Linked DNA regions of Homo sapiens: regions 1 and 2 are each linked to region 3. Evidence: fine-mapped expression QTL. A gene starts in region 3. Each other region holds a variant in brackets. All regions are shown on one strand. Distances are from middle to middle.

Evidence for each region.
Region 1: its variant is fine-mapped to the expression of WLS in whole blood (INTERVAL, PIP above 0.99).
Region 2: its variant is fine-mapped to the expression of WLS in whole blood (INTERVAL, PIP above 0.99). The same link has a PIP of 0.9 or more in T cells, blood mononuclear cells and monocytes.

The regions. Positions count from the first base shown.
Region 1 is chr1:68,266,974-68,274,042 of GRCh38, reverse strand. No RefSeq gene overlaps it. Among named protein-coding and RNA genes, the nearest start is that of WLS, 38 kb to the right of the region's middle. The variant G/C (reference allele first, on the strand shown) is at 3,374.
Region 2 is chr1:68,251,328-68,258,396 of GRCh38, reverse strand. No RefSeq gene overlaps it. Among named protein-coding and RNA genes, the nearest start is that of WLS, 22 kb to the right of the region's middle. The variant G/A (reference allele first, on the strand shown) is at 2,939.
Region 3 is chr1:68,229,524-68,236,511 of GRCh38, reverse strand. WLS (Wnt ligand secretion mediator) reads left to right here and starts at 3,989. Exons shown (of 12, transcript NM_024911.7): 1 at 3,989-4,318. The coding sequence starts at 4,213.

The sequences.
Region 1 (7,069 bases), 37 kb before region 3:
ATGAGGTCCAGCAGTAAGATGGGTAATTGCAATCCACAAGAACTCCCAAACCTCATTTAGAAAGCTGTTTCAAGCATCTCTTGAGCCTGTGAACCAGACTAGGATAACTATTCCTCTTCTTCTTGAACCTGTAAGAACCAGACTGGGATGACTGTTGATTTTCCATTGTTTCCAGCCTCAAACAGAGAAGGAATAACGATCGGGCCTTGTTCACCTTGCATGTTTTTACTCAGGGCATTCCGTGAACCAAGCACTTTGTTGACCCCATTCACAGAGATGTCTAGTATGTACCCATAGGCTGCATATGTGGTAGGTATCGTCCTTTCTATTTTGAAGATGTGAAACTGACTGATGCAAAGTGTTACCAGTAGGAAGTAGCACAGTCAGGGTTCAAAATCTGGTGGTTCTAATTCCAGGTACATTCCTTCATGGTATCTTCAAAGCCTTATGAAAAAACTGGAAAGACCTGGAAAATGTTCAATTCAATTGAATTCAGTGCAATTTGAATTGTTAATCAATTTAAATGTTCATCATTTGAGCTTTAAAGGTAGGCAAACTGGTTTTTTTTCTTTCTAACTATATGTCCATAAGAAATTTCCTTAATGGCCCTTGCATGTTATTCAAAATTCTAATTAGTAAAACTGTATCGTCATGAAGATTAAATGAGGTAATGTTATCAAGCACCTACTATATCATCTGCATCAAAATATCCTGTTTCCTACTCCATTCATCGGTTTGGTCCTTGTATCATTTTGTATCATTTCTTTGTTTTTTCCCCTTGTGGCCTTATTGTTTCCTGACATTTTAAAATATCTATCTGGCCTTCAGAGCTGAATTGTAAGAACTTCAGGATCAGGAGCTGTTCTCATAAAGATGGTTCTCAAATTTCGAAATTTTTATCTTTTTTTTTTTTTTTTTTTTTTGAGATGGAGTCTCGCTCTATTGCCCAGGCTGGAGTGCAGTGGCACAATATCGATTCACTGCAACCTCTGCCTCCTGAGTTCAAATGATTCTCCTGCCTCAGCCTCCTGAGTAGCTGGGATTGCAGGCACCCACCACCACATCCAACTAAGTTTTGTAATTTTAGTAGAGACGGGGTTTCACCATGTTGGTCAGGCTGGTCTAGAACTCCTGACCTCGTGATTCGCCTGCCTCGGCCTCCCAAAGTGCTAGGATTACAGGCGTGAGCCACTGTGCCCTGCTTCAAATTTGTATTTTTTTAATGTGTGAAATCTTATACATTGCACATTGACACTCAAAGTACTAAATTAATATCAGCTTCCACACATCACCCAATGAGCATGAATTTGAACTCTCAACTAGTGGTGCCTTCGGCCAGGATTCCTAGGTTCAATTCGGATGGCATCATTATCTTTATGCAGCAATTTTTGCTTGTTCTATTATTTGAATAGCTAATCGCATTTGCCCTTCTAATATGTGAAAAGCCATAACAAAAAAGTGATTGTGACATAATAAAAGATATCCCCTAAATGGCAGATCTACATCTCAAATAGATTATTATTGGACTTAAGCTGATATTTGTGTTCAACTGTGAAGAGTAAGAATAAAATTAAGGGCCATGCATGAAGCATTGGAAGTCTGTCTTTTCAGGGTCAGCCTAAGAGGAGAGGAGTAGTGGTGGGGACATGAAGAACACTTTAGAATTTTAATTGTGAATCTGCATAAAAATCATTGACAGAGAAGTTCAAGGGTTTAAAGAGACATAGCCAAGGGTAAAGCTCACACAGATTTCTCAATTAAGTAGAGATTGGCAGAGTTGAATTTTTCTTTAACAAAAATATTTTTAAAAACTAATACCGGCAGGGCGCAGTGGCTCACGCCTCTAATCCCAGCTCTTTGGGAGGCTGAGGCGAGCGGATCACAAGGTCAGGAGTTCGAGACCAGCCTGGCCAATATGGTGAAACCCCATCTCTACTAAAAAAATACAAAAAACTAGCCGGGCGTGGTGGCGGGCGCCTGTAGTCCCAGCTACTCGGGAGGCTGAGGCAGGAGAATGGCGTGAACCCGGGAGTCCGATCTTGCAGTGAGCCGAGATCGCACCACTGCACTCCAGCCTGGGAGACAGAGCGAGACTCCGTCTCAAAAAACAAACAAACAAACAAACAAACAAAAAAACCATGAAATCATTTCATAATACCATGAAATCATCACTATAAGTTCCTGCTCAATCTCTGCACAACAACATTAGCAAATTCTTCTTCCCACAGTAAAATGATTTGGTTGTTTTGTTTACTAAATGTCACTTTTAGGAAGTAAGTTCTGCAAGGGCAGGAATATCTGTTTTGTTCAGAGATGTGTTCTAAGCACACAGATCAGCACCTGGCATGGAGTAATCGCTGAATAAGTATTTACTGAATGGAATTCAAGTAAACTGAAGTTTAAATAAGATATTACTTTGTAAAATTATCTGTTATACATCTGATGAGAGGTTAATATTCAAAATATATAAGAAACTCAAACAACTCAATAGTAAGAAAACAATCTAATACAAAAATGGGTAGATGGTTTGAATAGGTATTTCTCAAAATAAGACACATAAGTGGCCAACAGGTATATGAAAAAGATGTTCAGGATCACTAATCAACAGAGAAATGCAAATTAAGACCATAGTGAGAGATATCACCTCGCAGCTATCAGAATGGCTATTATTGCAAAGATGAAAGATAACATGTTGGCAAGGATGTGGAAAAAAGGCAACCCTTATACACTGTTTGTGGAAATGTAAATTAGAACATCCATTATGAAAAAAAAATATGGAGGTTCCTCAAAAAATTGAAAATAGAACCCATGATATGATTCAGCAATCTCACTACTGGGTATATATCTGAAGGAAATGAAATCAGTATGTGCAATAGAAGAGACAGCTGCACTTCCACATTCATTGAAGCACTATTCACAACAGCCAAGATATGGAATCAACCCAAGTGTCCAGCAATGAATGAATGAATAAAGAAAATGTGGTATATGTACACAATGGAATACTATTTGGTCTTTAAAAGGAAGGAAATTGTGTCATTTGTGACAACATGAATGAGCCTGAAAGACATTATGTTAAGTGAAATAAGCCAGGCACAGAAAGATACATACCACATGATCTCACATGTGGAATCTAAAGAAGTTGGACTCAGAGAAGTAGAGAGTAGAATGGTGGTTACCAGGGGCTAGAGAGTGTAGGGGGCTTAGGAAAATGTTGATCAAAAGACGCAAAATTTCAGTTAGGTAAGTTCAAATTAGTTAAAATAAGTTCAACAGCTCTATTGTACAACATGGTGACTATACCTAATTAAAAAGGTATGTAACTATTTGCTGCCGGGTGTGGTGGCTCACGCCTGTAAACCCAACACTTTGGGAG[G/C]CTGAGTCAGGCAGATCATGAGGTCAGGAGTTCAAGACCAGCCTGGCTAACATAGTGAAACTCCATCTCTACTAAAAGTACAAAAAATTAGCCGAGTGTGGTGACAGGTGCCTGTAATCCCAGCTACTCAGGAGGCTGAGGCAGGAGAAATGCTTGAACCTGGGAGGTGGAGGTTGCAGTGAGCCGAGATAGTGCCACTGCACTCCAGCCTGGGTGACAGAGCAAGACTCTGTCTCAAAAAAAAAAAAATTATTTGCTATATTCAATTTTTTTCTCTGTTTAATAATTATGTGATCCTTCTATAACCTAGGAGTTTAAGAAAATCTAAAATAGATAATATGATTAGGATTTTATTATTTAGCTCTCACAGGTTCAGAAAAGCTGAGTACCAAGTTAGGCTCTGTCATGCGTTAGGCATGTAACCTTGATCAAGTCACTAAACCTCCCTGAGCCTGATTTAAGATAGATAAATAGTAACATATTTATGTAACAAACCACATATTTATCTTTGTATCTGTACTGCAGAATTAGGACAGTTTATAAGAATACCTACAATAAACTAAAGTAAATAAATTGCATACAGAAATATGTAAATACATATAAGTTCCAAGAAAAATACAGGTTGAGTGGGAAAACAAGACTAAGTAAAAGGGCTCCGTTTCTTTTTCAGTTCTTAAGATACAACCTTAGAGATTAATGTGAGAATCAAATGATTTAATAGGATGCTGTTTGATAAAGAGTTCATTGACCATGATGCACAGAGAGGCTGTATAAAGAGAAACAAGCCCAGCCATACCTCACATTCCAGCCACCCCCATTGGAGCCCCAGACGTGTGAGTGAAGTCACCATAGACTCTCCAGCCCAGGTGAGTCACCCTGTCCAGCACCACACAGCAGGGATAAGCTGCCACCACCATGCTCTGCCCAAATTGGAGAATTATGGGCAAAAATATGGCTGTTTTAAACCACTACCTTTTGGGTTAGCTTTTTATACAGTAATAGATAAACAGTTTGGTTTCATTTCTTGGTCTCAATAGCAGCAACTTTCGTCTCCTGTCTGGAGCAACTCCCTCTTTATTTCACCAATTATCACTCCACTATCTGTCCTTTTGCATCCATGGATTTTGAAGGAAGGTCAGTGGTATTGTGTGGAAAAGGCTTTGGCCTTTGACTGATACCTCCAAAAAAATTATCATGTGTGAATACTAAACAAAAATAATATTTAAAGCTGCAAATTGTTTGGCAATACAAAAATAGAAATCTGAGCCTTCTATTGACCAAAAATCAGAAATTGGATGTCACAGTGGCTTGTTTGCATTAGGCCAGAAGGAAGAAAAATGATATTAGTCATTCCCAGTGAGCAACAGTGAGAGATTGGCACGTGCACATGAAATGCAATCTCGCTTCCCATAGAAAGTGATTAAAAAGATTAACACACACACAAACACACCTTTTGTATTCCCAATTTTAATATATTGTACAACAAATACGTTAATATCAAGGAAAAGAAAGTAAGCCACAAGCTTTTCACCAAAATGTAACTACAGTCATGTATTGCTTAATGATGGGGATACCGTCTGAGAAATGCATCCTTGGGCAATTTTGCTGTTATTCAAACATCATAGAGGGAACTTACACAGAACTAGATGGTATAGCCTGCTAACACCTCAGGTATAAGGTATAGTCTATTGCTCCTAGGTTATGAACCTGTACAGCATGTTAGTATATTGAATACTGCAGGCAATTGTAACACAATGGTAAATGTTTGTGTATCTAAACATAGGAAAACTGTAAAATAGGAAAATACAGTAAAAATAAAATATCATATAACACACCTATATAAGGCATTTATTATGAATGAAACTTGCAGGACTGGAAGTTGCCGTGGGTAAGTTGGTGAGTGAGTAGTGAATAAATGTGAAAGTCTAGGACATTTCTGTACACTATTGTATACTTTACAAACGCTACACTTAGACTACACTAAATTTGTTTTAAAATATTTTTCTTTCATTAATAATAAATTAACCTTGGCTCACTGTAACTTATCTACTTTATAAATTCAATTTTTTTAACATTGTGACTCTTCTGTAATAACATATCTTAAAACATACATTTTGCAGCTGTTCACAAATATTTTATTTTTTTATCTTTATTCTGTAAGCTTTTTTTCTACTTTTATCATTTTTTTTTAACTTTTTTACATTTTAGTTAAAAACTAAGCACAAAAACACACATTACCTAGGCCTACATAGGGGCAGGATCATCAATATCACTATCTTCCACCACTGCATCCTGTCCCACTAAAAGGTCTTCAGGGTCAATAATACACCTGGAGCTCTCATCTGTGATAATAGTGCCTTCTTTTGGAGTACCTCCTAAAGGCCTGCCTAAGACCATCTTTCAGTTAACTTTTTATTTTTATAAATAGAAGGAGTACACTCTAATATAATGATAAAAATATAGTACAGTAAATACGTAAACCAGTAAGTTTATTATTATTATCAAAGTATTATATACCGCACATCATTGTATGTGCTGCACATAATCATATGTGCTCTACAACTGGCAGCACAATAGGTTTGTTTGCAACCAGCATCACCACACACGTGTGAGTAATGTGTTTTGCTCCAATGTTATGATGCCTACAATGTCACTAGGCGAATAGGAATTTTTTAGCTCCATTTTAATTTTATGGAACCACCATCCTATAGGCAGTCTGTCATTGACCAAAATGACATTATGCAGTGCAAGACTGTATTTTTATCTTGCCAAGTTCCTTTTCGATCCCTTTCCAAGTGCATTAACTGTGAATCCTTATTTTTAGCTGATTAATTATCTAACTCCTCTTTCACAGGCACAAGAACCAATGTGAACCCAAAGCAATGAGGAAGGAAGGCAGGAAAGGGAAAATAAGGGAGTGTTCCTTGTTGCCCTGGAGGCTTGGAGGAAAGCTGCTTAATTCTCAATTTATTTTTCTCCATTTATTCAGTCAATAAATGTTACTACAAAATTTTTAAGTACTTTTCATTTCTTAAAATTCTTCAGCTGTGTAATTACTTGTTCATTGATCTTCTGCCCAGTTAGACTGTAAGCTATGCGTGAGGCCAGAGGCCAGATCTGTTTTTTCTCGTTTTTTTTTTTTTTTTTTGGTTGCAGTGTTGCAGTGAGCCAAGATCATGCCCAGGCTGGAGTGCAGTGGTGCAGTCTCGGTTCACTGCAACCTCCACCTCCCGGGTTCAAGCAATTCCTGTGCTTCAGCCCCCCAAGTAGCTGGGATTACAGGCATGCGTCACCACACCCAGCTAATTTTTGTATTTTTAGTAGAGATGGGTTTCACTATGTTGGCCAGGCTGGTCTCGAACTCCTGACCTCAGGTGATCCGCCTGCCTCAGCCTCCCAAAGTGCTGGGATTACAGGAGTGAACCACCATGACTGGCCTCAGATCTGTTTTTTCTTAATCACTACTGTATATCTAGCGTCTAACCTAATGCCTAGCACAATGCCTTAAGAGGCATTTAGTAAATGTTTGTTGGTTTGAAGTATGGGAATTGCAAGTCCAGAGGACACATTTACCAAACTAGGAATGGAAAGGAAGAAGTAAGGAGAAAATGGTTGTTAAATAGTGGGTGAGAGTCTATACATTAAAAGGAGAGCGTGCATGCTCTAATGTACTTTATAATAAATGTGGTCTATTTG
Region 2 (7,069 bases), 22 kb before region 3:
ATAATCCAATTTAAAAGTGACCTAAATAGACATTTCAAAAGACCTAAATAGACTTTTCTCAAAAGAAAGCATACAAATTACCAATGGGTATATGAAAAAATGCTCAACATCACTAATCATCAGAGAAAATGCAAATCAAAAACACAATGAGATATAATATCATCCCAGTTAAAATGGCTATTATTAAAAAGACAAAAAATAACAAATCTTTATGAGGATTCCACAAAAGAGAACAGCTGTACACTATTGTTGGGAATGTAAAGTAGCACAGCCATTATGGAAAATGGTATGAAGGTTTGTCAAAGAATTAAGAATAAAACTATCATATTGTCCAGCAATCCCAAGGCGAGGTATATATCCAAAAGAAAGGAAACCAGTATATTGCACAGATATCTGCATTCCCATGTGTATTTCAGCACTATTCACAATAGCCAAGATATGGAATCAACCTAAGTGTCCATTATTGAATGAGTGGATATAGAAAATGTTACATATACACAATGGAATATTAGCCATAAAAAAGAAGAGTCCTATTTGCAACAACATGGCTGGAGGTCATCATGTTAAATGAAATAAGCCAGGCACATACACACAAATATCACATATTCTCACTCATATACAGGAGCTAAAATAATGGATTTCAAGGAGGTTGAGAGTAGAATGGTGCTGACCAAGGGCCTGTAAGGAAACCAGTGGAGATGAAGAGAAGTTGGTTAATAAGCACCAAAATACTGTTAGGTAGAAGGAATAGGTTATGGTATTTGATATACAGTAGGGAAATTATAGTTAATAATCAGTATTGTATATTTCAAAATAGGTAGATGGGAAGAATTGTAATGTTTCAAATAAAAAGAGAAGATAAATATTTGAGGTGGTGGACACCCCGTTTGCCCTGATTGATAATTACACATTACATATGTGTATCAAAATATCACATGTACCCCAAGATATGTATAACTACGATACCTCAATAAAAAGTACCAAAAATTTTAGACAGCATGTTTACAAAGGAGATGTGGTGTACATACTGTATATTATGTAACATCCCCAGCAGAGTCTGAGGTAGCATTTTAAAATCTAAAGCATTGTATCAGCTAGCTATTACCTCAATAATTCATCATAACAAAACACTCCAAAACTCGATGGCTTACAAAAGCAACCATGTTTTTCTTATTTCATAGCTCTGTGGGGATGCTGTTCTGTATTTCTTCTCATTCTTTCAGGATCACTGATTCCCTGGGGCAGGCCTTCTCATGGTGAATAATGGGAAGGCCAAAGACCCAAAAAACTCAAATCTCATCAGCACATTTAATGCCTCTGCTCTCATCAGCTCCCCTCACATTCCATTGGCCAAAGCCAGTCATATGACTAAGTCCAGCTGTAGCAGGACCAGCCGCAGGCAAAACTCCTCAGACACCGAGTTAAAGAAAGAAGGGGTTTATTCGGCCAGGGGCATCAGCAAGACTCCTGTCTCAAGAGCTGAGCTCCCCAAGCGAGCAATTCCTGTCCCTTTTAAGGGCTCACAACTCTAAGGGGGTGTGCGTGAGAGGGTCATGATTGATTGAGCAAGCAGGGGGTATGTGACTGGGGGCTGCATGCACCGGTAATTAGATTGGAACAAAACAGGATAGGGATTTTCACAGTGCTTTTCTGTACAATGTCTGTAATCTATAGATAACGTAACCAATTAGGTCAGGGGTCAATTTATAACTACCAGGCCCAGGGTGTGGCACCAGGCTGTCTGCTTGCAGATTTCATTTCTGCCTTTAGTTTTTACTTTTTCTTTCTTTGGAGGCAGAAATTGGGCATAAGACAATATGAGAGGTGGTTTCCTCCCTTACAACGTTAGGGAAATATATTTCTTCCCATGAGGGAGAAGGTAGGTGAAGTGTTGCTATAAAATACTCAAATTAATATACTAACATTTCTTCAGTAAAACATATGAATATCTCTGCATTCAGTGGGATAAATACAAATTATAAATAACCCCAAGATAGTTTGGTTTTCAGAACCTTTTGGATTTTATATTTGAGATGAAAATCTCCATCAAGCCCTTGTGATCCTTCCTCTCTTGTCCTTTTACTCTGTAATTCCTACTCCTGAGACCAAGGGCTTCAGTAAGGATGGCGTTCCCTCTGCTTAAGGCCGCCAAAAGCTACTGTTGCTACATGTCTCCTAATGTCCTTCAAGGCATATATGTCATACACTTCTTTTGTTACCCTCACAGAACCTAACAGAAGCTCCGGATCCATAGGAAACCCATAAGAGAAATGCTTATTCAATTGGATTATAACATCAGTGAAGCCTGTAGACCCAATGCAAGCCAAGCATGAAAAGGTGTGAGGATGCCAAGGCTTAAGGACATTTTCTGTCATTCAGTTCTTGCATCTCATCCACTCCTACTCCATAAGTGTTCTCTTCTTAAAGAATATCTTAACAGTTTGCAGCTGTGTTAATCAAACTTCCCATTGTCTCTTTATTACATAACTCACACTTTCACATTTTTAAACAAAATGAGATAGTTACTTTGACTTCAACAATAGTCTCCTAAAATAAAGGGGGGAAGAGTTGGCATTAGAGTTATACTAACATCTAAGGCCAAGTAATTAGTGACTCCACTATTTTTCTATTCCCTTAACTATCTGAGAATCATGTATCTAAGAAGATTTGAAGTACGGCTGTGGATTTGTGTTTAAAGTGGAACATTGCCCAATAACAGTGCTGTCTACTATATATTTTTCCCTAACTCTTCTGGCCTAAAGTGTAATTAAAATAGAGAGCTATTACAACCGAATGGTTATTACTTGTTTCATATTACAGTAGGTTGGTTGATGTCTTCTTCAGAAATAAATAACTCAACTTCACCTGGAGGACTTTTCCGATGTCCCAATGTGATCCTTGAGTGACGAAATCATGGTTTCTTAAGTTTTGGAAGGAA[G/A]ATGAAATAAACCCAAAGATTATGAAAGAAGAACAATAGAAAATTGCTGAATCACCAGCAACTGAACCAAACAAAAGAGTTTAAATAAATAATTTATTTTTAAACCTACATCATAAAAAATGACAAATCAAAGATAAATAAATCAATAGAAGCTTTGTAGGTCTCAAAGGAGATTTCTGGGCATATTTCTGGGACTTTATAAGTTGACGCAAATTCTCTATCACTTTTTAAAATTAGCTGGTTTATTTTATTACAGCAGCAATAAGGTTCAAAATTTTAAAATAAACAAAATAAGAAAGCATAAATTAAAACATCAAATTTCCCTACCTTCTATCTTTTCCTTCTCTGTAACCACGGACGTAACCTCTGGTAACATTTTCTTCCATTTATAGCCATTGAGAATATTTCACTTTCAGTGTTTATATTAATTTGCTCAGGCTGCCATAACAAAATACCTCAGTCTGGGTGGCTTAAACAGCAGAAATTTATTTTCTCACAGTTCTGGAGGCTAATAGTCCAAGGTCAAGATGTCAGCAGGTTGAGTTTCTTCTGAGACCTCTCTCCTTGGCTTGCAGTTGGCTGCCTTATTTCTAAGCCCTCACATTGATTTTCTCTGTTTGCTCACATCCTTGGTGTGCCTCCAGTGTCTTAATCTCCTCTTCTTTACAAGGACACCAGTTGGATTGGATAAGGACCCACACTAACAGTCTCATCTTAATTTAACAACCTCTTTAAAAGCTTTATTTCCACATACAGTCACATTTTCAGGTGCGGAGAGTGAGGGTTTTCACATACAAATTTTAGGAAAAGACTGCTCAGCCCATAACACTATCTTAAAAAGCAAAGCAATGCTACAGCAAAATGATGAAATTCCTGTAGACATATCTTTGAACACTTTTGCAGGCATATGGGTAAGATAAATTTCAATTTGGGGGTCAAAGAGTATGCTCAGCAATAATTTGGATAGATGTTGATAAATTTCCTACAAAAGGTTTGTAATAATTTATTCTATCAACAATATATAGACCTGCATAGTTCCCTTCAGCTTTGGGCTTACATAACCTTTTAATATTCTTAATTGGATAAAAAAATACACTTTGTTCTTCAGTTTATGTATTTTAAAATATTATATGGTTAAGTATCTTTTCAGGTGTGAATTGCGCACTCATATTTTTTCCATAAACTCCTTTGCCCACTTTTTTTCTATTGGGTTATATATCTTTGTTTCTGTTTTTGTTTTGGAGACAGGGTTTCACTCTGCCACCCAGATAGAGTGCAATGGTGCAATCATGGCTCACTGTAGCTTCAGACTTCGAAGCTCAAACGGTCCTCCTGCTTCAGCCTCCCCAGTACCTCAGACTACAGGTACATGCCACCACTCCCAGTTAATTTTTGAATTTTTCTTTTGTAGAGGCCATAGGGTCTGGCTATGTTGACCAGGCTGGTTTCAAACTCCTGGCCTCAAGGAATGCTCCAGCCTCAGCCTCTCAAAGTGCTGGGATTACAGGTTTGAGCCACCATGCTCAGCCTTACCTTTTATTTACTTATTTGGAAGAATTTTTTTTATATTAAGGTGCCTTGTCGTATTTGTTGCAAATATTTTTTCCCAATATGTGCTTGTCTTCTATTTGACCTTTTTTCACGGCAGAGTGTTAAAATTGATAGAAATTGAAAATGTTAAGATTAAAATGTAGATATTAATCTTTTTCTTTTGGCTTGAGGACTTTGAAATAAGTTTAGAAAGGCATTTCCTATACCAAGTTTATGTTTGGATTAGTATTATTCATGTTCTTGCTTATTATTTTGGGATTTCTTTTATTCACATCTTAATAGAGAAGAAGGAAGGGTAAAATCCAGGTTTATGTTTTTCAAATGTTCAATCAGTATTACCAACATTATTTATTTAATAATTTATATTTTTCTCATTTATTAAAAATGTGACTTTTATCATTTTATTATTAAACTCAGATAATTACTCCAGATTATTTATGGATTTGTTCATCTATCTCATTGATCTTTTTTGTTTATTTGTGGTCAGAAAGAAAGTTCAGATACTTTAAAGCAACACTTTATCTGATGTACTCAACCCACCTCATGATTCTTCTCTTTTCAAATATTTTCCTACGTGTTTATTTTGTCATATAAATTTTAGCATCATTTCATTCAAATTTCAAAAATCTTCAAAAAACTTTGTTTATATTTTTGATAGGAATTGCTTTATAGTTTAGATTAATTCAAAAATAACTCTTTCAAAATATTGATTCATCAGATGGAAACCATCATTCTCAGCAAATTATCACAAGAACAGAAAATCAAACACCGCATGTTCTCACTCATAAGTGGGAGTTGAACAAGGAGAACACATGGACACAAGGGAAGGGAACACCACACATCCAGACATCTGGGCCTGTTGGGGGGTGGGGGGCTAGGGGAGGGATAGCATTAGAAGAAATGCCTAACGTAGATGACGGGTTGATAGGTGCAGCAAACCACCATAGCACGTGTATACCTATGTAACAAAACTGCACATTTTGCACGTGTACCCCAGAACTTAAAGTAAAAAAAAAAATTGTATGCAGAGAAGTAACATAGGAACATAAACTTTAGAAAAATGTTACTAATCAGATAACTTTGAATAAACCACTTAATCCCACTAAAAAATAGATAGGTAGGTAGGTAGATAGACAGATATAGATAGATAGATGATAGATATAGATAGATAGATAGATAGATAGATAGATAGATGATAGATAGATAGATAGATAGATAGATAGATAGATAGATAGATTCATCTATCCAAACAAAAGATGTCTTTTCATTTAACTCATTTTTAAAAATTTTGACTCAGTGAAATTTTAAATTTTCATGCTTTCTTATTAGATTCATTCCTAGAATAGTTATTGTGAATGAGATATTCTTCTCCATTCTACTTTCTAGCAGATAATCATTATTCTAAAGTAAAGTACTGGACTTTTTTTTTTTTTTTTTTTTTGAGATGGAGTCTCACTCAGTCGCCCAGGCTGGAGTGCAGTGGCGCAATCTTGGCTCACTGCAACCTCCACCTCCCAGGTTCAAGCAATTCTCCTGTCTCAGTCCCCCAAGTAACCAGGACTACAGGTGCGCACCACCACGCCCGGCTAATTTTTTGTAGTTTTAGTAGAGGTGGGGTTTCACCATGTTGGCCTGGCTGGTCTCAAACTCCTGACCTCACATGATCCACCTGCCTCAGTCTCCCAAAGTGCTGGGATTACAGGCATGAGGCACCACATCCAGCCAAGTAATTGACTTTTAATTATTGTGATTAGCTTTATTATTGCTTGAATTATTTTTATTTGAATTTTTAGATTTATAATTGTATCAATCACACATAATTCTAAGTTTGTTTCCTTCTTGTTTCTCTTTTTATTCTCTTCTTCAGTTGCAATGGCTAGCATCTCCAAAATAAATATCAAATAATAATGGTGATTTCAATTCTAGATTGTACTAGAGAAATTCACCAATACAATAAAGCAAGCAAACAAAATGAAAGCTATAAAGTTTGGAAACAGAAGTAAAATTATTATTGTTCATATATGACATGATTGTTTATGTAAAAAAATTGAAAAAATCTACAAACAAATTATAAGAATACATTTATTTTGTAAGGTCAGTGGATAGAAGGTTGATATAGAAAATCAATTTTATTTATATGTACTACACAACTAGAAAATAAAAAAAATTTAATACTTTTTATAATAGCACTGGAATTTTCTGTGTTTGGGTATAAAAGTAATAAAAGTAGTACAATATCTCTTCCTTAAAAATAATAAAATATAGGCTGGGTGCAGCATCTCATGACTGTAATTCCAGCACTTTGGGAGGCTGAGGCAGGAGTATCACTTGAGGTCAGAATTTCGAGACCAGCCTGGGCAACACAGCCAGACCCCACCTCAAAAAAAATAATATATATATATTTTTTAAGTTAGCTGGGAGTGGTGGCTCATACCTGAATTCCTAGCTACAGGGTAGGCTTAGGCAAGGTAATCACCTGAGCCCAGGAGATTGTGACTGCAGAGAGCTATGATTGTGCCACTTCACTCCAGCCTGGGTGACAGAGTGAGACCTTGTCTCAAAAAAGAAAAGATAAAATAT
Region 3 (6,988 bases):
GAGACAGGGTTTCTCCATGTTGGTCAGGCTGGTCTCGAACTCCTGACCTCAGGTAATCCGCCCACCTCAGCCTCCCAAAGTGCTGGGATTACAGGCGTGAGCCACCATGCCCGGCATATCCCAAACACTTTGAATAAAATGATGAATAAATCAGAATACCTAATATAAAGTCTAGTGGAATGGAGTTGAAATGATCAGTTTTTATTGACAGAGTTGGATTTGCCCTTGGATCATTTCAGTCTCTGGGATAATCTACCTAATGACAATGACTCAAAACAAACATTTCCTTGGCAGCTGGAAGTTTTTAGAACAGATGTTTCTATGTTAAAAACCACTGAGTATTGTCAAAGTTCAATTCTAGATGTTGTCCTTATTAACACACTTGTCAAGTAAAGTTAACCACCTAGACTTCTCCTAACATATGCTTCAAACAGTAATCACAATATGATAAAAATTTTAGAGCTGAGCAATAATCAGTCATCAGTTTTACTAGTTTTACTAGTTTTTAAACACAAAATTATTGATTTCCCTTAGTTTCCTAAATATAATAATAAATATTCATATCTTACAAGAATACCATGAAATAGTACTATTATTCCCATTTTACGGAAGGGAAAACTCTTCTGTAAAGAGTGAAGGTTTTACAGAAGCCTCAGAGTTGGTCTGTGAAGCCTCAGAGGTGGTAAGTAACTGCATAATGGCCTATAATCACATGAAACAAGGGGCAGATGGGATCTGGGTTCCAAACCAGATCCAGCTGACTCTAACTGTCATGTTCTTTTCTATTCACCTGTGTTGTCCGCTTGGGAAATAAAGATTCACAGTCACTTTTAATGTTTAAAAAGATGTGATAGAAATTCAATTTTTTTAAAGCAGCCCATGGTGATGAATACTACAGGTGTCTACATCCCACCAAGTTGGGCATTATTGGTAATCTCATGACAGAAGTACTGATTAGCAATTAGAAATATCCCTTTTTAATTAAAATAACTATTTAATAAGTGCTCTTTTAAAGCAGGGGATCATCTTGGTGGAGAACCAGCAACTCATTTACAGATGAGAAAACTGAAACCTAAGGAGTTAGGCTAGTTACTCTGCAGAGATGCATTTCAGAGCAGAGGGGGTGGGGTGTATTGTAGCAGCTCATTAAAAACTAAGTCAAGGAGTTCACTAATCTGAATAAATCACTTCTACCACTCCAGACATTTTTTATGGATCCAGTTTATATTTGAAGTGGACGGGGGCCAGGCGTGGTAGCTCACACCTGTAATCCCAGCACTTTGGGAGCAGAGGTGGGTGGATCACCTGAGGTCAGGAGTTCAAGACCAGCCTAGCCAACATGGCGAAACCCCATTTCTACTAAAAATACAAAAATTAGCTAGATGTGGTGGTGGGCACCTGTAATCCCAGCTACACAGGAGGCTGAGGCAGGAGAATTGCTTGAGCTCAGGAGGCAGAGGTTGCAGTGAGCCAAGATCGTGTCACTGCACTGCAGACTGGGCGACAGAATGAGACTCTGTCTCAAAAACAAACAAACAAATAAATAAACAAAAAACCCACCATTTTTTCTCTACCCTCTTATGCATAGTGCTTGGGGGTCTGTGGACTAAACTGACAAAAGACAGATTAGCAAGGCAAAAGACAAATTTTTGTTCACATATATCAAATGTATGTGGGCATTCATAACCACTCAAGGAGGCAGTTGTTAATAGAATTTGGAGCTTATATTCTATCTTAATAGGAGAAGAAGTGTATTTATGAGAAAACAAATGACTTTTAGGAAAGATAAATGGGCCCTTAGGAGTGCTGGGCTCAGAACATGATACCCCAAGGTATCTGAGTACTTTGAACTGAAGGACATTGGAAGGACAACAATTCTGTCTACTTCATCCTTTCTGATAGTACCTGGTGTTTGCCAAAGTAGAGGTAATTAATTACTATTCAGTGAATAACATTTGGACTGGGGGGGGGTTCCTCTGGGGCAGGTGCAAGTACTTTGACATCTTGGTATCCTTGAGTGCTTAAGAAAGAAAGCCTGGAACATGTTAAAGGCTCAATAAGTGACTTGGATAAAGAGTTGAATGAGAGAATAGATAAACAGCAACCACAGTCATGCATTGCTTAATGATGGGAATACCTTCTGAGAATGTGTTGTTAGGTGATTTGTCATTGTGCAAATGTCATAGAGGGCACTTACATAAACCTAGGTAGCATAGCCTACTACAGACCTAGGCTACACCGTGTAGCTGATTGCTCCTAGACTACAAACCTGTCTGGCATGTTACTGTACTGAACACTGTAGACAACTGTAATGCAATAGTAAGCACTCTGTGTATCTAAACATATCTATAGAAAAGGTGTTGTAAGAATATGGTATTATAACCTTATAGGACTACTGTCACACACACGGTCTGTTGTTGACTGAAACATCCTTATGTGACACATAATGATGTGTATATCCTCAGAACTGTTAAGAACTATTAGATGTTGAAGAGATGGAGTTTTGTATGCATAAAGTTTGGTGCTTGTCCTTGACAAGTCTCTGTTCTATTTGGAGATTAGAAATGAATGCTTCTATTAAGTGTAACCTGCATGACATCTTTTATAAGGGCAATGAAAATTCAGGAACAGAGTAGAGGAGGAGAGAGGACTGGGAAAAATAGTCTCTTGGCATGAAGAGGGTGTGTAAGGATGGGAGGGACAAGAAACAAGATGTGTGGGTGGTGGTGGTAGAAACTGCACGTTTGGGGAGCAGGGTGGGGTATTTACCAAACCAAGGGTCTATTGAGTAAGGTGAGTTGTACTGGCCAAGCGGCCAGTTTATGAAACATGGAAAAACCAGGCCCAGAAATTTAGGCTTGATAGAGCAGGAAATCTCTATCGGGAGCCCCGCCCCTCTTTTTATGGAAGTTAAGTATAAATATAAATATATGATTTCTCACAAAGAGACAACAAACATTGTAACTTAATATAGGTACCCTCTAAACCAACTAAGATCTCTTTAGACCTTTGAAATACAAACTGTGGGCTTGCTTTCACATTCACTTATTCATTCCACAAAAGATTATGGGGCACCTACTAGAGCTAGCATTTTGTTAGGCACCATGGGGGGTACAAAGAACAAAAAAAACTTGGTCCCTATTCCCCAGGAGTTTACAGCTCAGTGGTGGAGACAAACGTGTACACAAATCCTTACAATAGGAGGTAAAAATGTAAATACAGGATTGTAGGGGCTCAGTTCCCAGAGATACTGCATGGAGGTGGTGTGGAAAATTAGAAAGATTTTTTAACACTAGTTGGTTTTGGATCAGGTTTAACATTGATGGAGTAGAACATGTTCTCTTTAAGGCAATAACCAGGGTTAAGGCTGTGGAAGCACATGTGCTGGAGTAACGAACAGTGGTCTGATTTGGCTGGAGAGCAAGTTTCCTCAAGGGGCGCCGTGGGGAATTTAGCTGGGTATGTGCCCAATAACCGAGGCTGGGAATCTGGTAGAAAGAAGTCGAGCTGAGACTTTATTCCGCATCTCTGTGTTTTGACTTAGGCATCTATTGGGTCCTTTTAAAAAAAATTCTCCTCCTCTTTCCTAAAGAGAGTTCTAGCAGTTGGGGGTGGGGTGGGGACCATTTCCTAAAGTCAACGCGTAAGTTAAAGGTCTGCAAGGCGGTCCACCGGTGATTTAAATCTCGCACTTCGGAAACCAGAAAAGGAAACCTGTGAGAAGCTGGGCAGGGGGAACCCGCTTAACATCAACAGCAACCCCTAAATGGCATCAGACCTTGGAGAGACAGGTTGCAGGCCAGACTCGGGAGCCAGGCGCCAGCACCCGCCAGAGCTCTGAGCCCCGAACTGGTGGGCAAGGGGTAGAGGAAGAGAGGGAGGGAGGGAGGGAGGAAGCGCGAGAGGGAGGGAGGAAGAAAGGGAGGGAGGCGGCGTCATGTGATCCGCTTCCCTGCTCCTTTAAGCGTCCACAGGCGGCGGAGCGGCCACAATCACAGCTCCGGGCATTGGGGGAACCCGAGCCGGCTGCGCCGGGGGAATCCGTGCGGGCGCCTTCCGTCCCGGTCCCATCCTCGCCGCGCTCCAGCACCTCTGAAGTTTTGCAGCGCCCAGAAAGGAGGCGAGGAAGGAGGGAGTGTGTGAGAGGAGGGAGCAAAAAGCTCACCCTAAAACATTTATTTCAAGGAGAAAAGAAAAAGGGGGGGCGCAAAAATGGCTGGGGCAATTATAGAAAACATGAGCACCAAGAAGCTGTGCATTGTTGGTGGGATTCTGCTCGTGTTCCAAATCATCGCCTTTCTGGTGGGAGGCTTGATTGGTAAGTGCGGAGAGCTGCAAACTTTTCCCCCTTTCTGTCTTTTCGGGCCCCTTCCCTCTTTGCCTCTTGGGCTACTTGTTACAGTATCACTGCCTTGCTTCTATGATCTAATTAGTCCGGCTATTGTGCTTAAGAAAGCAGAGCTCCATGGGGCTCCGTGGGGCACAATCCAGTCTAGTGGCTAAGAGAAAAGGAGGGGAAAAAGTTTTGGCCTAGTTTCAGTATCCACTTGAAAGGCAAGAGGGGGGCGGCGGGGGTGGGAATCTTAAGCATGGCGACGGATCGCGCGAGGAAGCGCTGGGTTACAAAGTTGATTGCTCGCCCCCCCCCCCCCCCGCTTTTTCCCGCGTTCCCCCCCTTTTCCTCTCGGTTCCCTTCCAATCAGCTCCGGGAGGGCAACGTAATCGACTTTATTAGGAACAACAGAAGAGTCGGGGAACTGTGCCCGGCGCAAACCCGGAGCTCTGTTACAAGGCTGAGATACTTGCACGGTTGTAAATGCATTTGGTCGTCTTTGCTAGGGGCTGAGGGTTTGCAATTTGGGGTCCCGACCTTCGCGCCCTCTGCTTTCCCGCCGCACTCCACCCCACGCTCTGCCGTGGACAGGTCCGAATTGTCGGCCGGGAGGTTGGGTGGGATGGGGTGGGGTGGGAGGGAGTCCTTGACCAGCGCCGCGGGAAGTTGGAGAGGTCGGAGGGGAAAAGCGTATCCGAAAGGTGTTGCTTTTGGCCTCCTGCCCACTCGTGAATATCCCTTCCCCCACTACTTAGAGCCCCGAGAGCCGGTGACTGTGAATGTCCCCGTCCTCTTTTGGCGCTTAGGAGAGCGCCCTCAGCTCCCACCACAGCCCCCCGCAGGTGACAGCTCGCCGGCCTCCTCGGCGACAGCGCCCGCCCCGGGAGACCTCCCCTGGCGTGCACCTCCCGGACCTCTCTGAGTCAAACAGGCTTCCGGGTGAAGAAAACCGCCTCACGGACCGTCCACTCGGAAAAACTCCCTTCCCCTCACTGTCTCCCCATCTGCATCCATCCTCCCGCCTCTCTGCACACTCGCGCCCCCCGCCCCCTCAAGATTTGGGACATCCCGGCACAAACTTCAATGCCAACTTTGCAGCGGGCGCGGACGGGAGGTTCGGTTTCCTTACTTCACGGCTTTGTTAAACTTTGCGGAGTGGGGAGTCCACGGAGGGGCTTTCTCCGCGCGTGCCTTTACGGGCGCCCACGCGATGTGGGGTGCGGGGAAAACGCCCGGGGGCGCCGGCGGCGTCGCTGCCAGAGCTGCACAGGCTTGGGCACCTCCAGTCGTGTGCTTGGCGTTTTGTCTCCAGACTTGGGTTTGATGGGAACAAATTAAAGGGAGTTTGGTACTGTAAATCACGGTAACATCCAAGCCAATTGTCTTAAACAAAGGAGAGTGGGTGAAGCTTCATCAAGGAGAGAAATACCTAAAGGAGACAGTGCTCTTTTCTCTGTGTGCATTTATCCACAAAACAGAAAAGGGTTCAGAGTTTTCAAACAATCTCTTATCCCCAGTGTGGGCCAAACAGCTTCACATTTTCTTTCTGGAACCCTCACCCTCAACACACACACACACACACACACACACGCGCGCACACACACACACGGGTTGGCTTTTGTGTTAGGAGCTTCTGTTTGGCTACATGCAATCTCGTTTCCCCGTATTGGATTTTTCGAGGCTCTTAATACCTTCTCTGCTGGGAGCTGAAGGCAGCCTTCCCTGTGCCCTCACAGTGATTATGCAGCGGTTACAATTACACCTCTTGTCTCCCTTGATGAGCAGTTGCAGTTAGATGCCATTGGATCTTGTGTGATTTCAGTGGCAGACCATAATTAAAATTTCTTGCACCTTGTGCTTTCAGAATTAAATTGGCCTATTATCCCTGTCTGACCTTCATCCTCTTTGAGGTTTTTGCACAAGCAGCAAACCATTACACATAGTTTCCTGGTGTTTGTTGGTGTGTTTCTTTTTCTAGGCTGATCTCCTAGCTTTGCAGACAGAGCCCATTATCCAAGAAGTAGGCTTCCTAGGGCACTTCTGAAACTAGTAGGATTTCTGGGATGCTACCACCAAGGAGAAGCCCTAAGGGCACTCGTGAGTGGCTGGTGGACATTGGAGCGACTATAGGGTCAGAACACTTGTCTGTTCCAAACAGGGTTTGTCTGGAGTAAGTGGTGCCAAAGATTGTTTTTCCCGAAGAATTTGGTTAATGACGACAACCTCAAAAAGTCCGCGGCAGGTGCTAACTGTAACTAGCTTCCCCTCAATTAATAAACTGCTTTATTCCAATTTCCTTGAAAAATATCTATGTATAACACTTCTTGGAGGAAACTGTATAAGTTTACTGCTTACCTCTCCTTCCTCAATTGCAAAGGCTGTGTCTCCAATTCAGATCAGATCTAGCCCATGTTGAACAGTGACTTAGCCTTTCCTCTTTCACTTAAACAGTAATTTTTTTTTGCTCTTAAATCTAAAATTTGGGTAGGACCCAAATATGGGAAATAAATATCAACAAAATGTAAGTGAAAAATTTTCCCACCAAACTTCCCTAAGCTGGAAAACAAAGGAAACTAAGGAAAGAATAGCAACAAAGTGGGCAAGCGGAGACAGTAGTTGAAGGAACAGTTTGTAGGCTGGAAGTCAAGGTAAAGT